2 separate regions of the Homo sapiens genome follow, and region 2 is linked to region 1. A link means that fine-mapping ties the variant in region 1 to the expression of a gene that starts in the linked region. Tissue or cell type: whole blood. Region 1 holds a variant in brackets; the other region holds the start of a gene. All regions are shown on one strand. Distances are from middle to middle.

Region 1 (10,594 bases):
CATGTCCTCCAATGATCCATCTCGTCGCATCCCATGCCTCCTGGGCACCACTGTTCCTGCTTCATGTTGCAAATGGCAGACTGCCCTGGAAGGTCCCAGCAGCATGCGCTCAGCCGATGGTTTGGGCTCCCCATACCTAACCCAGTGCCTGTAAAGCCCCTGAGACCCCCTTTGAGAGATGTGGGACTTAGGGGGTGGGGATCACATTCCTTGTCCCCAAATTTCTCCCTCTCTCTTTGTCTTCCTTCTTCTCTCCATTCATCAGGAGAATGGGTGAGATGTCTCTCAGGTAGAACTCCGGGAGCAGGTTTGCCAGACTTGCCTTCTGAAATGTTAAAGAAAGGTAGAAAGAGGGATTGAGGAAACCCCTTTCTCTCCTAACAAAGCCTTTCTGCAGGTTTGATAATCCTATTGTAGATGCTCACGTTGAACCTGTACCTTTCTCTTGGTGTTTACTTTCACATCCTAGTACTCCGCCCCCAACACCCCTCCACTCACTAGGAAGAAGGACATTTACAGAGAAGTGCAAAAAACAAAAGCACATAACATACAACATAATTGAACATCATCACTTTCACCAGTTAGGGTAATGTTCACCGTACACGGAGTTGCCTCTGTTGGAGGTGGCTCCAGGGCGGGAAGGGCTCCATTCCTCTGCACGGCGCCAGGCCTATCCCTTTCCCTGATTGTTTGGCTGAGGAAAGTTTGGAAAATCTCCAGAAAACAATTGTTAAAACTAATCTGAAACAGGCTGTAAGTGGCATGGGAGAAGTGCGAGGTGTGGACACGGGCAACCCTGCCATGAGATGGAGGTCTCTGAATGTCGAAAGCGAGTGATCTGCAGATGTACAGTGCCCACGGGGCAGTCAGCCTTTAAGGGCAGTGTGGGAACATGCAAAGAACAGGACCCCAGGCTCCCGTTGCAACCAGGTCAGTCCCTGTTTTCAGCACCACTGGGGCGGCCTCATGGGGAAAGAGGGTACAACGGGGCTGGAAGTGAGTTTAATGGGGCTGCGATTCGGAAGCTGAGGGTTTTAGTCCAGCAACTGCTTAGTTGTTCCCGTACAACTTCATGTTGTTAAACTACAAGGTTCAGTCCTTGATCAGTTAAATAGGAACAATGCTGTAAAACCTCTGTCCAATCTACTTCACAAGCCTCCTGGCAATGCACATAAAAGGGCTGCATACATTCCTAAGCTGGGACCAGGAAGGGTGGGAGGCAGACGTTATCCTGAAGACAGACAGAGAGCTAGTCGTCTACATTTTACCATGTCACCTGCCTGGGAACCCTCCGCACTTGCCTGGGCCTAGGGTCCAATGGGCTTCCTGTCTCTGACCAGAGGTCGGGAAACAGCTCTGTGCGGGAGTTGGCCGATCTGCTGAGTGGGGTCGTCCTGGGGTTGATATTTGTTCTTAGCAACAGGCATTTCAAATGCACAATGCATGATTGTAGCCCTTGGAATGCAGCATTTTTGAGCAGCGAAGTACAGGTTGCCAACTGTAAAATATCACCATGTTCACACTGGTTCTAAAGACAAGCGGAGAGAAGGGAATAATTCTATATTAAGACAAACCTTGCAATCTACCCTCCAGAGCCTTCTGGAAGAAATTAGGATCATTTTAAAAAGGGCTGCATTAACACAGTGGGGCATTCATTCCTTTTATTTTATTCCTTACATATTCACAATTGGAAAATTTTTATCATTCTGGAGTTATTAAGTAGTATGGGGGAAGGATTACTTATTTTTGCATGTATTTTTGAAGGAGGCTTTCCTTATTTCTTTTCATGTTAAAAAATTTACCCTTTCTGAAGCCTTTTTTTTTTTTTTTTTTTTTGGCGTATGTGTGTTTCGCAAAACTTGGCACGAGCATGAGAGGCTGACCTTTAACTTGAGGAGGAGGAGGAAGTGCAGTGAGGGGCAGCTGCGGAGGGCGTGGAGGAGGCAGGATGACTCAGTGTCTCTGTAACGCCCTCCTCTCCCCTCTCGGCCCTGGGCCAAGTGTGTCCAACCAGTGCTGCATCAGAGAAAGAAATCCTGCAGAAGTGACCGCTGTGGTAATGACAGCATAAATAGTTCCTCTTTTGAAGTTTTAATGCTCCTGAAGCTGTGGGAGAAACAGTCAGCTTTCAGATTCCTCCCTCGACTACTGGCAAACCGTGAAGAACTGTGTTTTCTCTCCAAGACACACCAGAGTGGTTATAAGGGCAAAGAATGATTGGACTTTAGAAGCCGAAAAAGGACTAGAGGCAGACAAATGGACAGCATTTCAGGGTGGCCCTGGGTTCACAGTGACCTTGAACCTTCACCTAAGTTTTTGGCAGCTGAGTCTCCATAAGAGGGGACAACTGCATTTACTATCGGAGAACTGCAGTTTCTCTCTCTGGCTGAGTAGAGTTGGTCTCTGTCTATGGGGCATCCTGTGGTCATCTCTCTCTGCAATGCAGGAAGCTCTGTCTGCCTGCCCCCTTTCCTACCTAACTGAAATTGAGGGGTAATTGCCTCCTGCACCCATATTTTCGAAATCTCAACTCACATACACACCATCTTTTGCTCTTGACTTCATAACAGCAATAGTAGAATGTCATTATCTTTGTCAGCAATGGCAAAATCAGCAAAATGAGCACTTACTGTGTATAAGCCTGGTCAAAGATAACAGACGCAGAGAGAGAGAGAGAGAGAGAGAGAGAGAGATTCCTTCAAGGGTCTTACAAGGTATTTGAGGATGAGACCATTATTCTTTCCCCAGCACGACACTAAAACTCTTCTCAACAAAGTTGTAAGTGACCTGCTAATTGCCAATCCCAGCAAACACTTCCCAATACCTTCCTGAAATGGTTGACGTGACCTCATTATTTGAACACCCTTCCCTGAATGGCCAAGACAGCACCCTGCCTTGGCTCTCCTGCTACCTTCTCACACCACACCCTGAGGTCAATTCTTCCTCCATCTGTCCCATAAATGTAGCTGCTGTTTCTCAGGGTTCCACCTTTGGTCTTCTTGTCAGTCCTCAATTTTCTTTTTTCTTAGTTACTTTGCCTAATCCTGGAGGATGTGAATTTACATTTTAACACATTTCCTAGAGGTACTGATATAAATCCCAAGCAGTTTTGAGACTCTCTGGACTTCTTCATCCTTCTAGTTCTTAGCATCTGCATCTATAAAATGGGGATGATAATGGTACTTGTTTCATTGGACTGTTGTTAGGATTCTATGTAAAGCACTTAGAAGAGTGCCTGGCACATAGGCAGTTTTACATAAATATCTGTTGTTAAGTTTGGGCAAAGGCCTAATAGAAAATAAGTTTTTGAAGGAAAGTTGGGGCCTTTTGCAGAGACAGATGGTTCTTTCCCCAAATCTAGTCTCTCCTTCTTCCAGAATCCCCCTGTGGCACCCAGTATCCCTGGCCTCTCCATGCTACAACAGTGGCTATGTTTTTCTTCAGTTCAATATAGCTAGAATTGTGCAGGAAAATTCCTCAAAGTATTTCTCTATTTCATGGTTACCTGCCTCTCTTGGAAAGGTGGGAGAGTGTGAGAAAGGAGGGAGAAGAAAAACTCATATTTACAGAATACCCACTGTGTATTTAGTAGCAAATATTTATTGAGCACCTCTAGTTGTCAGGCCTTTTACACTTCATGTCATTCTTCCAAGAACCTTATGGGGAGGGTATCCTCCTGCTCATATTGTCAGCAAGCACTCTGGTAGGTGCTTATTTATTCCCGCATATGCATTGGAAAGCAGGTTATTTTTTAAGGCTTTACGATGGGTGGTTCTTTCTCAGCATTGTGTGCATTTGATTCACAGTTGGCCGACAGATAATGAAATTCTCCAATGCTCTGATGTAAGTCCTGGAATTATGACTGCGTGTGGGGTTGGACATTGTCTCGAGTTCAGCACCAAATGATGTTTACCTGCTTGTGGATGCAGTAAAGTCTGCCTCCAGTCACAGGCCCCAGTTCTTTCTATACCTGGATCTTGATGTAGAAATATAGAACTTGGAATACTGGCTCAAACTGACATCCATTCTTCATTCATTCATTCATTCATTCATTCAACAAAAACGTAATACGCTCTTGTTTGGCTAAACATTGGAATTGCAGAATCGAAAATCCTTTGCCCCTGCCCTGAAGGAGCTCACATGTTGCATAGCATTCCCAGGATCAGAAGATAGGTCCTGGCTGGTCATGGTGGCTCATGCCTGTAATCCCAGCACTTTGGGAGGCCAAGACCGGTGAATCTTCTGAGGCCAGGGGTTTGAGAGCAGCCTAGGCAACATGGTGAAACAAAAATACAAAAGTTACAAAATACAGAATTAGTCTGGCATGGTGTTGTGTGCCTGTAGTTAGCCGGGCACGGTGGTGTGTGCCTGTAGTCCCAGCTACTTGGGAGGCTGAGGTGGGAGGATCAACTTAGCCCAGGGAGGTGGAGGCTGTAGTGAGTCATGACTGCACCACTGCATTCCAACCTGGGTGACAGGGTGAGACGCTGTCTCAAAAAAAAAAAGGTAGGTCCTCCTCAGCCAGGTCAAAATCAGTTATCAAATACCTGGAACTTTGTTGTGTAACCCGTGGCTTCTGTGCAATTTTGCTTTGTGGTTGTTATTACAAAATTTCCTTCTTTTGCTTTGTATGACATCGGTG[C/T]CCTTGAGGAATAAGAGGCTTGAGAGCTGGAACTGTGTCCCCACCAACTGGTGCAGTGTCTGCCACATAACATATTCAATGGCTGCTTGTTGAATTGATGGGTGAGATACAAAGACTATTCATTAATATTAGTATTCATCCTCTGTAGATGCCAAACATGAAGCCCAAAGACATTGACTTGACAGTATATTTGGAATATGCTAGGATTTAGATTTTCTGATTTCTAGAAGTTAATTCTTTATAAAATTATTTATTTATTTAATTTTTGACCTCAGGTGTACAGGGTTGAATTCAACATACTTTTTGGGTCATGAGTCACCAAAATTATCATGCTGTGCATGGCCTGTCTGTTGGTTACATTTTATTTATTTTTTATTTCCTTATTTACTATTCTCTGTCCGCTGACACCCACTCTAATTCATTGTATGAGTCCTTAGATATGTATATTTTTGGAGGCTGTACAGTGTTTGGACTGTGTATGTGTAGTGCTTAATTTCCAAGCATTTTTGGTGCTTAATTTCCAAGCATTCACAGATTTTCTAATTCCTTTCTGTCATTGATTAAAGAATAGACACTGTAAGATTTCAGCCTTTTGAAATATTCCCAGGGCATGGACTAGGATCTATTTTGGTAAGTTTTTCAAGCAAATTTCAAAAGACTGCGTATTATTTAATTTTGGGGTGTAGTAACTAGTGTATCTCAGTTAGGTTAAGTTATTTAATTGTGTGGTTCATATATTTTATATCTTTATTGACTTTATGTCTGCTTTGAGAAATATATTAAATATATTAATGTATTAAAATCCCCCACAAAGATTATGCATTTTTACTTTTTTTAGTTTTGTCTTTTTGTTTTATATGTTTTGAGTCTATGATGTTAAGTGCTTAGAAATTTAAAATTGCTGTATCTTCTTGGTAGAAGCTTTTACACTTATGAAGTGTCTCTATTTCTAGAAGTGCTTCTTGCCTTAAAGTCTACACTATCTAATATTAGTATAGCTACATCAGCTTTCTTTGGGTTAGGATTTGTATGATATATCTTTGTCATCCTTTTACCTTCAACATTTCTATTTCTTTATATTTAAGGTGGGTCTTTTGTCAGCAGTATATAGTTGAGTTTGGCTTGATTTCTCAGTCTTTCAAATGGAGTGTTTAATTGGTTTGCATTTAATGTCATTACAGGTATATTTCAGTTCATCTCTACTAAAAATACAAAAATTAGCCGGGTACGGTGGCGGGCACCTGTAGTCCCATTTACTCAGGAGGCTGAGGCATGAGAGTTGCTTGAACCCAGGAGGCGGAGGTTGCAGTGAGCCAAGAAAATTTCTGCAAACATATTAAGCATAGTTATTTTAAATTCAATGACGGACAACTCCATTGTCTGAATTTCTTCTAGTTATTTCTTTTTTCCCACTTCTTGGCTTCCTAATAAGTATTTTCTTCTCATTTGCCTGGTTATTTAAAGGTGTGTTTGTGTGTGTGTGCTAAAATAGACAAAACAAAATTTGTCGTCTTAACCATTTATGTGTACAATTCGGTGGCATTACTTACATTCAAAATGTTGTGCAACCATCATCAAAACTTTTTCATCACCCAACCAGAAATTCTGCCCCTGTTGAGCAATTACCCTCTGTTCTTGCTTTCCCTTGGCCCCAGGTAACCTCTAATATACTTTCTGTCTCTATGTATTGGCTTATTGTAGATATTTCATATAAGTGGGATCATACAATATTTGTTCTTTTCTGTCTGGCCTATTTCACTTGGAGTAATGTTTACAAGGTTCATCCATGTTGTAGCATGTATCAGAACTTCATATCTTTTTATGATTAAATAATACTCCATTGTATGTGTATATCACATTTTGTTTATCTATTCATCTGCTGATGGATACCTTGGTTGTTTCCACCTTTGGGCTACCGTGAATAATGTTGCCTTGAACACTGGTGTTCATATATTTGTTTGAATTCCTATTTTCAGTTTTTTGGGTTATATATTTAAGAGGTGAATTGCTGGGCCGCATGATAATTCTACATTTTTTTTTTTTTTTAGGAATTGCCAACTGTTTTTTGCAATGTCTACACAGTTTTACATTCCCACCAGCAATGTAGGAGGGTTCCAATTTCTTCACATTATTGTCCACATGTTATTTTCTCTCTCTTTCTGTGTGTGTGTGTGTGTGTGTTTGTGTGTGTTTTCAATTATAGCCATCCTAGTAGGTATTAAGTGGTATCTCATTGTGGTTATGATTTGCATTTCCTTAATGACTGATGGTGTTAAGGATCTTTTCACGTGCTTACTGGCTATTTGTATATCTTCTTTGGAGAGATGTCTACTCAAGTCTTTTTTTTTTTTTTTTTTATAATGGGTTGTCTATTAGTTGTTGAGTTATAGGAGTTCTTTATATATTCTAGATATTAGACCTTTTAAATATGTGATTTGTAAATATTTTCTCCCATCTGTGGGTTGTCTTTTCATTCTGTTGATAGTGTCCTTTGATGAATAGAAGTTTTAAATTTTCATCAAATCCAGTTTGTCATTTTTTTTCTTTTGTTACCTGTGCTTTTAGTGCTATATTTAAGAAATCACTGCCAAATCCAAGGCCATGAAAATTTGTCCCTATGTTTTTTTTTCTAAGAGTTTTATAGTTTTAGCTCTTATGTTTAGGTGTTTGGTCCATTTTCAGTTAATGTTTGTATATGGTGTAAGGGAAGGATCCAGCTTTATTCTTTTGCATGTGGATATCCAGTTTTTGCAGTAGCATTTTTTGAAGAATCTGTTCTTTCCCCATTGGATGATCAAAAATAAGTTGACCATAGATGTGGGAGTTTATTTCTAGGATCTCATTTCTACTCCATTGGTCTACATGTCTATCCTTATGCTAGTACCAAATTGTTTGGATTACTGTAGCTATGTCAATCAAGTTTTTATATTGAGAAGTATGAGTTCTTCAACTTTGTTCTTCTTTTTCAACATACTTTTAGCTAATTGGGGTCCCTTGAAATTCCATATGAATTTTAGGATGAGTTTTTCTATTTTTGCAAAAAATGCCATTGGGATTTTGATAATTAATTATTATTGGTTAGTTTTTTATATATTGGACCACCCTTCCATTCCTGGGATAAATCCCATTTAGTCATTGTGTATAATTCTTTGAACACGCTGCTGAACTCAGCTTGCTAGTACAGTAACTTCTCAACATCATCAACACATCCTTGGAAACTGTGACTTTAAGCAAAATGACCTAAAACAAAAACAGGTGTTTTTTTTTTTTTTCATTAAAATTAACATACAATGAAGTTGAACAGGAAGCATTATTGAAGGACTTGCTGTATGTCATTTTGCTTAAAAGTCACAGTTTCCAATAACTTACCCATGACCTTAAGTGAAGACTCTCTTTAATTCGTTGAGGACTTTTGTATTTGTATTCATAAAGGATTATTGGTCTGTAGTTTTCTTTTCTTGTAGTGTCTTTGACTTTGGTATTAGAGTAATGCTGGCCTTATATACAATGACTTAGGGAGTGTTCTTCCTCTTCAAGCTTTTGGAATAGATCGAAAAAGACTGCTGTTAATTCTTTTAAAAATGTTCAGTAGAATTCACCAGTAAGCCTTCTGGTGTGGAACATTTTTTTTGTTGTTGGAAAATTTTTTGATTATTGATTCAATTTCTTGTTATGGGTCTGCTGAGATTTTCTATGCTCTTGAGTTAGTTTAGGTAATATGTGTGTTTCAAATAATTTGCCCATTTCTTCTAGGTCAGGGGTCCCAACCCCTGGGCCATGGACCAATACTGGACTATCGCCTGTTAGGAATTGGGCCACACAGCAGGAAGTGAGTGGTGGGAGAGCGGGTAAAGTTTCATCGGTATTTACAGCTGCTCCCATCTCTTGCCTTACTGCCTGAGCTCCGCCTCCTGTCAGATCAGTGGCAGCATTAGATTAGGAGTGTGAACCCTATTGTGAACTGCGCATGCCAGGGATCTAGGTTGGGCACTCCTTATGAGAATCTAATGCCTGATGATCTGTCACTGTCTCCCATCATCCCCAGATGAGACCATCTAGTTGCAGGAAAACAAGCTCAGGGCTCCCACTTGTTCTACATTATGGTGAATTGTATAACTATTTCATTATATATTACAATGTAGTCATAATAGAAATGAAGTACACAATAAATGTAATGCCCTTGAATCATCCTGAAACCACCCCCCAACCCTGGTTCATGGAAAAATTGTCTTCCATGGTGCCAAAAAGGTTGGGGGCCACTGTGCTAGGTTATCTAATTTTCTGGCATAAATTATTCATGATATTCAAAGAACATAGTGTGTATGACTTTAGGAAATTTATTGAGGTTCCTTTGTGAGATTGTACATGGCAGATTTTGGTGAATATTTCATGATTGTTTTAAAAGAATGTTTTCTTTCTTTCATGCAGAACTGTATATACCTAACACTTGAGCTTAACAACTATTTATATTTCTCTACTTTTATTTGTCTCTTTGCTCCATCAGTTCCTGAAAGGGGCTTATTAAAATCTAACCACAGTTGTTTTATTGCATTTTCTTCAGACTTGGTTTATGTTTTGAGACCACGTTGTTAAGTACATATACATTCATTTTATCTTCATATTCTTCTTGAGTGTTTTACCAATTTTTAATATTCCTCTGGTTATTATTATGTTTTTTTACAAAACTTTGTGTGACAATTAATTATGTTGGCTTATTTTTGGTTCAGATTTTTCTGATTAACTTTATTACATTTTTAATGATTATTAAAAGGGTGCCCTGCAAATGCATAATGCTATATAAATAAAAAAAATCTAAAAAAAATCTAATCTGATTGGTGAGTTCAACTCATTTACATTTGTACAATTCCTGTTATATTCTTTATTTTTTATAGAGATGGAGTCTCCCTATGTTGCCCAGGCTGGTCTCAAACTCCTAGCCTCAAGCAATCCTCCTGCCTCAGCCTCCAAAGGCCTATAGGGGCTTCTTTTCTTTTAGGTTCTTTTTCTGTGTCCATGATATCTGCTCCCTCTGGCATACATTGTTAAATGAGCTGTTGTTCTTATTTAATGACTCATTTTTCCTCCTGAATCATATTGCCTTGGAACTGTATTAGGGATCCTTTCTCTGTTTGTACCTTTTCCGTAACAGGGTGACTTTGCTCCTCAGAGACCTTCTTAAGTCTGTTTTGGGCTGCTCCAATGTGTCCCTTCATTTCCAGCAGGCACTGGGCTGGGCTGGCATTGCTGCATTTAGACGATGGGCAGATACTTATCTTCCCAGGTTCATGTTGGGGAAAGAAAAGGGCAGAGACTGACAGCTCTCCATGGCTCTATGCTCATCGATGGCCTTGCCCTCCTCCAGCCTAGGATGCCTTGTCTGCATAGCAACCTAGCCACCTTCTGTGTTCTCGGGTGAGTCTCACAGCAGTAACACTGGGTTTTGGGGTTCACCACATTTCTTTTTGCTCCCGGAGTATCTCAGAATTTGGTTCAGGGGAAGAAGCAGCAAAGTGCATTAATTCATCATCTCATTGGGGCTTTTTCAACTACTCTCCTGATTTGATGCACTGACTGACTGGATGGAGTTGCTGATGGATGTACAGATTTCTTGCTCTATACCCGGCCAAAAAGTTTTGGTTGTGAGTGGGAATTTCAAATTTTCTTATTCTGAGTGGGAAAATGACACTACCAACTCAGTCTCACAAATAAAAGTAAATGTAAAAGCTGGATAATGTGGCAGACCCACAACAACCCTGTTAGAGCAAAGAGATTCCATCTGTGGAAGATGGAGGAAGGAAAGGCATCTTGTTTTGTGCCTGCCTCTGTCAGCGCTACTTGGGCGCTGACCTGGTACCCTACATCACTGAGTGCTTCTCTTCAGACTTGCATACCTCCCTCAGCCCATGGATGGCATTTTCTTTCTTTCTTTCTCTTTCTTTCTTTCTTTCTTCC
Region 2 (10,594 bases), 270 kb before region 1:
ATGGGTGGGCCCTGTGAGTCAGCCAAACCTGAAATTTGATAAACTCTTGCCTCCTGTTTTTACACCCTGGCTGACAGTCAGTGACTGTATTATCATATGGAAAACACATGTACTCTAACTACACAGTTATTACCTCTTGTTATTGATTTTTATCAACAAATGACAAACAACTTGGTTAGTTACTATAAAATGCTAACAGTTTCTTCCTTCATTCCTATCCTGGATTCTCTTAGTCAGTAGTTTGTTTACAATCACACTTGACTCCCTTTCTCTGCTATCATGGTATGGAAATAGGGCGATTAGATTGGAAAAACTGATTATTGTAAAACAGCAATTAATTTCTTACTGCTTTACTTGAACATTCATGCTTATTAGTTTTCCAAGTAAATAAGTTAAATGCCTTGTTAAACTTCCTTTCTGCCAGAAATGTTGTACCATCTGTGTTCAACATGGCAGCATTTTCTTATTTAATGCATATGTCCCCCCTTTTTTGGAAGTGTGTTAAGAGCTTTAATATGACAAGAAACAGAAATAAAATAGTGAAAACACATTGTGTTTCAAACATGAATGTAAGATTCAGATTTGTGACATTCAGAGAATTTGGAATTTCATGTACCATCATTAATTTTATGGCAATTATATGAGTTCTCAATGTTAGAAAGAATTTTAATTCTAATGTGAATCCCCTTTTGGCTTGGGAAAGCTATTTTATTTTATTGTCGTCCAAGCTGGAGTGCAGTGGCATGATCTCAGCTCACTGCAACCTCTGTCTCCTGGGTTCAAGTGATCCTCCCACCTCAGCCTCTCTAGTAACTGGGACTACAGGCTTGCGCCACCGTGCCTGGCTAATTTTTGTATTTTGAGTAGAACAGGGTTTCAGGGTTTCACCACGTTGGCCAGGCTGGTCTGGAACTCCTGACTTCAAGTGATCTGCCTGCCTCAGCCTCCCAAAGTGCTGAGATTACAGGTGTGGGCCACTATGCCCGGCCCAAAGATTTTATTTTAAATGGCTGTGTGAAATGCCACCTTATAGATATGCCATTATTTATTTAACCATTCTCTATAGTTGGTCATTTAGGTTATCTACAAATATGTGTTAGTATTCCTGCAGAGACCCACAAGTAGTCTCTCACTAATACCTAAAGTGAAGGAATAGTTTATTGAAGTTGACAAACACTGGCCCTTCACAACAGAATTGACAAAAGAAGTGGTTCACTGCTTCCCTTCTGTTACAGGTTAGTAGACAGATAACCAGAGGTAGTCTCCGTCTTTTGTCCATTTGTAATAAGATCATCCCAACCATGAGGCTTAGTGGTCGGAACTCATACTCCCAGTGCCTGTGGATGGTGCATTTTTAAATCTTTTCCACTTCATATCATTATTTTCCTCCAAAATGGTGACTATATTTCAATTTTTCCAGCCTTAGCATTTCTTTTACCTATCAAAAACATTTTTGTGTAATTCCTCCAAATAAATATTGTCACTATGCATTGCTGATTAGAAAAGAACAGCGTTCTTAACTCTGATAGCAAATATCGTATCAGGGAAAATAAACCATTTTGGAGCTCAAGGAATTTAGCATCAAAACAATGGACTCTAAGATGCACAGCACCTGACATATATGTAGGAGGTGCTCTGTAGATATTTGTGGAATTAGTGACAAAACCCCAAGGAAATTATCCCTTAAGAGAAACGAATGGTTACTTCTAATCTTACTACAGCTACCAGTTAATATGCCAGCCTTCAGGACATTGGTTTAAAGACCTGAGGCTATATATATTTTTTTCAGATTATTACTTTCTATGGGCTAAGTGAAGAAAGGCTGTTTCAGGTTGACAGCAGTACCTCCTAATAATTCAGACAAAGTTTTGGAAACGGACAGTTGTTGGGGAAAGGGAATGTGAAATACGAAGTGAAGTGCCCTGACTGAAAAATCAGCATCCAAGTTTTTCACTTACTCATTAAATGGAACTTAAATTATCTATTTTGACAAGTAAAAATTTAAATTTAAACCCGAGATCTATCATGTGTTGGTGAGGGGTAAATGTAGAAATTTCTGCCTGGGCATTGATCAAAGGGAACCATCCCTCAGTCTTCCTGTTAAGGATGAGGCAATAGTTACCCTGAAAACCAGGCACAGAAAAGAACATCACATAGTTTTGTGAGATGGACTTTGTAAGGATAAATTTCCTTTTTCATTTTAATTGTCCTTACTTGACATGAGACATTTTTCTTCCCTATTTCTTCCCAGTTCAGACACATGCAGCAACTAAGTGATAATCAGTAGAAAATACCTTCAAAGCAAGCTGCAACCACAAAACACAAGGAAGGAGAAAAGAACTTTTTCCCTTAAGCAGAACCAGGGATGACCTAAATACTATGTCACCCTTCAGAGATGGCAACATTTACATTTTTGACTAAAAAAAAAACAAAAAAAAAAAACAGAAAAACTTCTTTTGTAATCTCTTCTTTCATTATCTTATTACCACTATCATTGTTTTATGTCTGTTTTCTTGATCTTTTATTTTATTTTATTTTTTTTTAATTTTTAAATTTTTTTGAGATACAGTCTCATTCTGTCGCCTAGGCTGGAGCAGTGGTGTGATCTCGACTCACTGAAACCTCCACCTCCGGGGTACAAGGGATTCTTCTGCCTCAGCCTCCTGAGTAGCTGGGATTACAGGCACCTGCTACCACGCCCAGCTAATTTTTGTATTTTTAGTAGAGATGGGGTTTCACCATGTTGGCCAGGCTGGTCTGGAACTCCTGACCCCAGGTGATCCACCTGCCTCGGCCTCCCAAGCTGTTGGAGTTACAGGCATGAGCCACTGTGCCCGGCCTATTTGTTCTTTTAATTCAAACCTTTATTTGGTTCAGTGGAGTTCACCTAACTATGATTACTAAGATCTGCGGGTTGACTGGAAGGAAATACACTACGAAGTTATAATGGTTATTGCTATAGTGGGATTACAGGATATTTATAATTTTCCATCTGTGTTTTGAGAAGGTTACTAATGGGAAAGCAAAAAATTAGAGCTACAGCCCTGGCATCACCACTTTTATTATGTGCGCTGGGGCAAATCAGCATCTCTGCACCTCTCTTTTTCTAAGTTAAAGGGGGTCACCAAGGTGATCTCCGAGTTTACTTTCAAGTTTAACGTTCTGTGGGTCTAATGGAAAAGACAGTTTAGCTTGATATAACCCTTGTGGAGCACAATTTGGCTGTGCCTTTCAAAACTACGAATGGGTATACCTGCTGACCCAGTGACTCCCATTTCTGGAAATTGCTCCTATATATATACTTGTACAGATATGAAATTAAAGTTATGCAAGGTTATTTCTTTTTTTTTTTTCTTTTGAGACGGAGTCTCGCTCTGTTGCTCAGGCTGGAGTGCAGTGGGGCGATCTTGGCTCCGCTTCCCGGGTTCACGCCATTCTCCTGCCTCAGCCTCCTGAGTAGCTGGGACTACAGGCGACCGCCACCACGCCCGGCTAATTTTTTGTATTTTTAGTAGAGACGGGTTTCACCGTGTTAGCCAGGATGGTCTCTATCTCCTGACCTCATGATCCGCCCGCCTCGGCCTCCCTGCAAGGTTATTTCTTACAGAATAGTCTATGATAGCTAAAGACTGGAAACAAGTGAAATATTCACCAACATCCTGGGGTTCAGTAAATTGATATTTAGATACAACAGTGTGGTGGTTAGCTGTAAAAACCCTTCAATATATATTTTTAATTTTTTGGACCTATGTGTCAGGGACATTGGTGTTATAGGTTCTCTGTGCCTGCCTCGTCAATTTTTTTAAAGAAAGACCAAATAAAAGTAAACTATGACATTTGAAGAAACAATTGGGCAGGAGAGCCTCAAAGATTTCAAGGATTTGGGGAAAGTCTGTAGGAAGACTCCTTTAACCAAATAAATATTCTCTGACGCCCTGAAAAACCGGAATAGAAATGAAGGCAAGGCCAAATTTGAAGCTGGCTTCCTTTGCCAAGAATGATCCAGTAGGGCACCGCCTATTTTTAGGGTGCGGCTGTCTGGATCGGGGGCTGCTTCTGCAGAGTGTAATTGGAAAGGTGGGGGGAAGCAACAGCTGTACTTTGGGGGCCTGCCTTTGAGCTCATCATCTGAGTTACTGAGGTCCCCTAGCGGCTGTCAGAGGAGGCCCAGACTGTCCAAATTTGATAGTAAACGTGAAGAGACCACAAGACCAGGGTGGGAACCAGTCCCCGCCCGTCCCCAATCCATCCGGCTCACGCTCCCCACCCCACCCATGCCTAGTATCAGCAAGAAGCTGTTGTGATAAATAGATTATGAAGAAACAGGAGCCCGGACTAGAGAGACGATAGTGAGAATATAAAAGAAGAAAGATAATCTCTCTCAATCTTTTTAACTTTTGTAAGAGGCCTAATTTTTCCTTTTTTCCCCTCTTTTCTCTTTTATTTTTTCAACAACCTCTTGTCCAACTGACTAATTTTCTCTAGATGCCACTTTTTCCATTGCAGAATTACTTGTAAGAAAGAAAGGGATTAAAAAACAAGAGTTGGAAGCTGTCCTTTTGGACAAGATATTTAAAACCCTACTGTCCATCTTCCATCCTAAGTGGTCCCATCTTTCTAAAAGGAAATGCCTTCCATATTCTTCCTAAAAAAGCAAAAGCATAACAAAACAAAACTGGAAAACTGTTTCTTCTGCTTGAGACACAAGGGCCATTATCTTCCCACCTTTGGCCCCACTGATCCTTGACAGGATGTCCTGGACCTGCAGCCCAGATGAGGAAAGGTGGGGTGTGGGTGGGGGGTTGACTGACACACACAGCAAGTAGCCTCAAGGAATTTGGGGGTGGGGCAGGCTGCGCCCCAAGGCTTTGGTCCTATCTCCCGCCCCCCTTGCGTTTTTACTTAACACCCGATCACTTCCGTTGCAAATAAAAAAGAAGTAACAAACAGCTAAATTTAATTAGGGATAAGTAATAAAATGACCTGGTTCTCTCTAACTGCGCTCCTGAGCCCTTCGCTGCCGGCCCTGGACTTAGTGGACGGAGCGGGAGATTCCCGCCCAGGGGAAGAGGTTCCCACGGAGGGCATGCGGTCGCGGGTGCCTTTGGATTCGTGTGTTCAGGGAGGCCAGATAATCTCCTCCCCGCGCCGGAGCCCCTGTTCCTCATTTCTAGCATTTTAAAAAAGGTCAAGAATACAGTGAATCCGGCTGGGGGCTGCCGGCTGGGTGACGCGCCTCTGGCTAGACCGAATGGCACAGGCTGAGCCCGGGGGTGCGGACCGGTGGGCACGGAGAAGGGTCCCTCGGCGCGGACTCGACTGCAGGAGCCGCGGCGCCGGGGGTGGGGGGCGTGTGCCGCTCGCGAGGGGGCCGGAGGACTTGACAGATCGCAGCGAAAGAAAACATTAAACCAAAACAAAACCCACCGATTCCCCACGTCGTTCAGCAAAGACATCGTGGGTGGAGCCAGGAGGGAGCGATTGAGTAGAATTCCTCGCGGCCGCCTCCGCCCGCCCACCCCGCGCCCCCGGCCCTCGGCCCCCTGCCCTGCCAGCCCGCCGGGCTCGGCCCGCAGCGGAGGTCAGGGAGCAGCGAGCGCCTCCTCCCACCCGGGCTTCCCGAGTACTCGGCTCTGCTGCTCCGTAGTAAACAAAGTGTCGCCGGCGCCTCCACGCTGGTTTGCTTCCTAGCAATCAAAACACTGAGAAGGCGAGAGAATCACAGAAACACTCGAGAATTACCAGAAAATAATAGAGATCCAAAAAAAAAAAAAGGAGGTGAGTGTGTGAAAGAGAAAAACACCCCACTACCCCCCACCAGCCCACCGCCGCCTCCCCGTGGAAAACCGGGCCCCACCCAGCCCGGCGCCCACTGGCTGCCCGGGCGGCGGTGCCGCATGCCCATTGGCCGCGCGGGCTGTCGGTCAGGGGCGGGCCGGCGCGCGCGCCGCCGCGGGCGGGGGGCGGCGGCAGATCCCGTAAGTCGGGCGGCCTGGTAGTCGCAGCAGCCGCTGCCGCAGCCGCCACATTCAACAGGCAGCAGCGCAGCGGGCGCGCCGCTGGGGAGAGCAAGCGGCCCGCGGCGTCCGTCCGTCCTTCCGTCCGCGGCCCTGTCAGCTGGAGCGCGGCGCAGGCTCTGCCCCGGCCCGGCGGCTCTGGCCGGCCGTCCAGTCCGTGCGGCGGACCCCGAGGAGCCTCGATGTGGATGGCCCCGCGAAGTTAAGTTCTGGGCTCGCGCTTCCACTCCGCCGCGCCTTCCTCCCAGTTTCCGTCCGCTCGCCGCACCGGCTTCGTTCCCCCAAATCTCGGACCGTCCCTTCGCGCCCCCTCCCCGTCCGCCCCCAGTGCTGCGTTCTCCCCCTCTTGGCTCTCCTGCGGCTGGGGGAGGGGCGGGGGTCACCATGGCCGAGGCGCCTCAGGTGGTGGAGATCGACCCGGACTTCGAGCCGCTGCCCCGGCCGCGCTCGTGCACCTGGCCGCTGCCCAGGCCGGAGTTTAGCCAGTCCAACTCGGCCACCTCCAGCCCGGCGCCGTCGGGCAGCGCGGCTGCCAACCCCGACGCCGCGGCGGGCCTGCCCTCGGCCTCGGCTGCCGCTGTCAGCGCCGACTTCATGAGCAACCTGAGCTTGCTGGAGGAGAGCGAGGACTTCCCGCAGGCGCCCGGCTCCGTGGCGGCGGCGGTGGCGGCGGCGGCCGCCGCGGCCGCCACCGGGGGGCTGTGCGGGGACTTCCAGGGCCCGGAGGCGGGCTGCCTGCACCCAGCGCCACCGCAGCCCCCGCCGCCCGGGCCGCTGTCGCAGCACCCGCCGGTGCCCCCCGCCGCCGCTGGGCCGCTCGCGGGGCAGCCGCGCAAGAGCAGCTCGTCCCGCCGCAACGCGTGGGGCAACCTGTCCTACGCCGACCTCATCACCAAGGCCATCGAGAGCTCGGCGGAGAAGCGGCTCACGCTGTCGCAGATCTACGAGTGGATGGTCAAGAGCGTGCCCTACTTCAAGGATAAGGGTGACAGCAACAGCTCGGCGGGCTGGAAGGTGAGTGGACTCGGCGCGCGGCCGGACCTTGGGGGCGCGGTGGGTCAGGCGAGGGCGCAGCTGTGCAGGTTTGCTCGGCCTGAAGGTGCGGAGCAGGAGGGCAGCGCGTTCCCAGGAGGGCGGGCGAGAAGCGGTGGTCGCGGTGGCCTCGCCCGGGTCCGGTCGGGGACGGCAGTAGGTGTGCGTGCGCGCCAGTCAGGAGTTCGCGTGGGACGCGGTAAGGGGCTCGTTGGGGAACTAAGTAAAGAAAGTGCGCCAAGAAGTGGACGTCAGAGCGAGGCCGAAAAGTTTGCCAGTGAAAGGAGAAAGGGGTTCGCTGGGAGCGGCAACCCCCGGCCCGCGCCGACTGCTTCGGCTGCCCCTTCCCTCCCGGACCTCCGCGGGGGGAGGGCGGGTTCTCTCCGGCCGCGCCGCGGAGCTGTTTCCGCCGGGCGCGGCGGGGGAGGGCGCGGCGAGGGGCCCCGGAGCCTCGCTGCCCCGGGACCGGGCTGCAGGTGGAGGGGACAGGCAGGGCGCGACCGGCCGGGGACGGTGCAGGGCCTGCCGGGCAGTTTCTGGAGGCGGTGCGCATTTTGCTTTGTTTTGGTTTTCTCCGGAGTGGCCTCGAGTGCCGGGGGCCCGGCGTCCCGAGCCCGAGGTGGTGCCTCCGACACGTGCGAAGGGGCGGCCACCGCCTGCGGAGCGCCGGCGCCTGGCCGCGCGGGGCGAGCTAAAGTTCAAGTGTGACCCTCGGCGGGGGCGGGCGCGGGCGGTGGCGGTGGCGGTGGCGGTGGCGTGGGAGGGGCCCCGGGCGCAGGAAGCCCGCGCCTTTAAAGGGCCAGCGCGTCGGGGCCGGGCGCCGTGGGGCCAGCGTTTCTCCATGCGGGGAAGCGCCCGAACTTGGTCTTGCCCCTGGTAGGAGGCTTTTAGTTAGAAACACAGAGGCTGCCCTGAGGGGCCGGGGGCTGGGATGTGTGAGTCTTTTCCTGCCTTGCCACCCTATTCTTGAGCATGGAGGACCAGGCGGGGGGGCTTTGCGACCAATGTTTTGAGGGAGTCGGAGTGGCGGTGCGCGTCGAGGGAGCGGTGCCTTGAAGGAGGATTTTTGCCATTTTTGCCTTTCAGAGCGTGGCCAGGAGAGACTTAGCGTGGGGGCAGGCACTTCCCGACTCCGAGGAGAAGGCCCGGGGGCCCTCGGCTCCGGGGAGGCTTCCCGGGGGCGGGGTCCAGTCGTGGCGCGGCCTCCCCAAGCTGACAGTTTCTCACTGTCACCGGTGGCGGAATTGCTGTAAAGGCTGTCTAGTTGAGCTAAACACCTCCCTCCCCTCCTCCGAGACGGAGTCTCGCTCTGTCGCCAGGCTGGAGTACCGTGGCGCGATCTCGGCTCACTGCAACCTCCGACTCTCTGGTTCAAGCGATTCTCCTGTCTCAGCCTCCCGAGTAGCTGGGATTACAGGCACGAGCCACCACGTCGAGCTAATTTTTGTGTTTTTAGTAGAGACCGGGTTTCACCATGTTGGCCAGGATGTTCTGGATCTCCTGACCTCGTGATCGGCCCGCCTCGGCCTCCCAAAGTGCTGGGATTACAGGCGTGAGCCACCGTTCCCGGCCGAGCTAAACACCTTTTTAAAACATACCTTTCTTCGCCTCTCATATTGGACTCCACGGCATAATAAAGATTGGTCTTTGCTGCGCAGTTGTTAACACCAAGGTTATTTTACACACAGTGTCATCCCTGTGGTTAATGCGTGTCAAAAGGGTTAAGTTACTCACACCTTATTGAAGTTCCTTTAGAAGGAATTCAAGATTCATTTTATTTTTTCCAAAGTGTGTTTTAGAGTAAAGGTATCACTTATCGCTTCATTACCAGGCATTACATGCAATTTTACCAAGTGTTTCAAAAAAGTAAAGTGCCTTCTTACCGTTAAGTTCAGCATATATTCTATTAAGTCACAAAATCGAAATTGTCTGCCAAATCTTGTTTTACTTAACATTTGAATTTAAGTACTTGACTTACTTGCTCATCTATCAATTCCACTTCAGCTGTTACAGAGTATTAGCCATTTAAAAAAAAAATCCTCCCCCCTTTTTTTGCATTCAAAGTACAGTGTGTACTTACACCATTCTTTAGTCCTTGGAAATGGATACAACCTACTTCAACTTGCTGGAGTGCCTTTCTTTAAAGATAAAGGAAGTGTTTTGGGATATTTTTAGTTTTGCGTCTCAAATGGCATTGTCAGAGTGTTAGTCTTAAACTAGGAATATGCTTACACTTTTTAAGATTTAGGTTTTTAAAAAATAGATTCTGATGTTAAATCATCTTTACAACCATTTTTATCAGGTTCTTGTTCTGATTTTTTTAAAAATGCAAGAATAATTTAGTTTTTTTTTAAATTTATTTGCCAGAGCTAGGAGACCTGTTAAGTTATCTGTCTGGAATTGGAGGCCCTTGGGCAGCTCCCAGTGGGAGCCTAATGGGGCTTTGCTTTGGAGTAGGCTGCCTTTCTCAAATGAGTAAGTGTTTCAGGTGTAATGTCAGTTGGTTTAAGTCTGATTGCAGCAAGTACATTTTCAGTTTGAGTAAAAGGGTATTTTAAGAAGAAAAGAAACAACCTGAGCTGTTCTAACTCATAACTAGTCTTTTGGTTAGTTTCATAAAAATGAGTTACTTGTTAAAACCAAGTTTCACTCTCAGATCTGAAAGACTCCTGTTCTAAGAGTCATAAAAGAGAAATTTTACTATGAATTTTAACTTAAATCCAGTTTTTAAATGCAAAGCAACCAAAACTTAACTGTTTTAGGACCGAGGAGAGGTTGCTTTGGCACAAAATATTTCCTGTGATTTACTACTGGGAATTAGGCTGAATCTTTAATTAAATAGTTTCTTGTGTGCTGCTTCCTGGGGCCTGCCTGAAAGTTTGAGTCATTTGCATAGGACAAACTAGTTGGAAAACTGTTAATGAATTCAAAAACTTTTAATGTCATTCTTTAGATAGTTAAGTGCTGGTTATATTTGAAGGATATGCATTTTGTGTTTGTGGGGATGGTATGTTAAATGTCTTACACTTGTTGTAATATTGGCTAGAATTGCTATAAGGTCACACACAAAGTGGAACCTAAGACTTTTGGAAAACCCGGGATCTTCTAAATCTAGTGCAGTATTTATAAATAATGAAACTTCATTTCCATGACCTGTTTTTTCACATAGAAAGCCTTCTAAAGCTTGGGAAGTGGTAGTTTGAACTCTGATTTTTTTTAATAAATGGCAGTTTTGAGTTGACTCTTTTGATATTATTAGGAACACTTTAGGTTAAAAGAATGACTTTGACTATACCACTTAACTCTTGTTAAATAAATTTTTAGATTGTTTTATTAGAGGTATCCTCTTTGATTTAAAGATAAATATCTTTTTTTTTTTTTTTTTTTTTTTTTTGAGTCAGAGTCTCACTCTGTTGCCCAGGCTGGAGTGCAGTGGCGCAATCTCGGCTTGCTGCAACCTCCGCCTCCCAGGTTCAAGCAATTCTTCTGCCTCAGCCTCCCGAGTAGCTGGGACTACTGGCACGTGCCACCATGCTTGGCTAATT

What was found. PIP is the estimated chance that this variant, and not a neighbour inherited with it, causes the effect.
Region 2: it holds the start of FOXO1, and the variant in region 1 is fine-mapped to the expression of FOXO1 in whole blood (INTERVAL, PIP above 0.99).

What each region holds. Positions count from the first base shown.
Region 1 is chr13:40,393,935-40,404,528 of GRCh38, reverse strand. The region is part of intron 6 of LINC00598 (long intergenic non-protein coding RNA 598); the gene reads left to right. Among named protein-coding and RNA genes, the nearest start is that of LINC00598, 82 kb to the left of the region's middle. The variant C/T (reference allele first, on the strand shown) is at 4,643.
Region 2 is chr13:40,662,020-40,672,613 of GRCh38, reverse strand. FOXO1 (forkhead box O1) reads left to right here and starts at 5,973. Exons shown (of 3, transcript NM_002015.4): 1 at 5,973-7,031. The coding sequence starts at 6,402. RefSeq lists an enhancer at 5,085-5,134 and silencers at 5,785-6,314, 6,545-6,684, 6,775-6,824, 7,345-7,854, 8,155-8,234.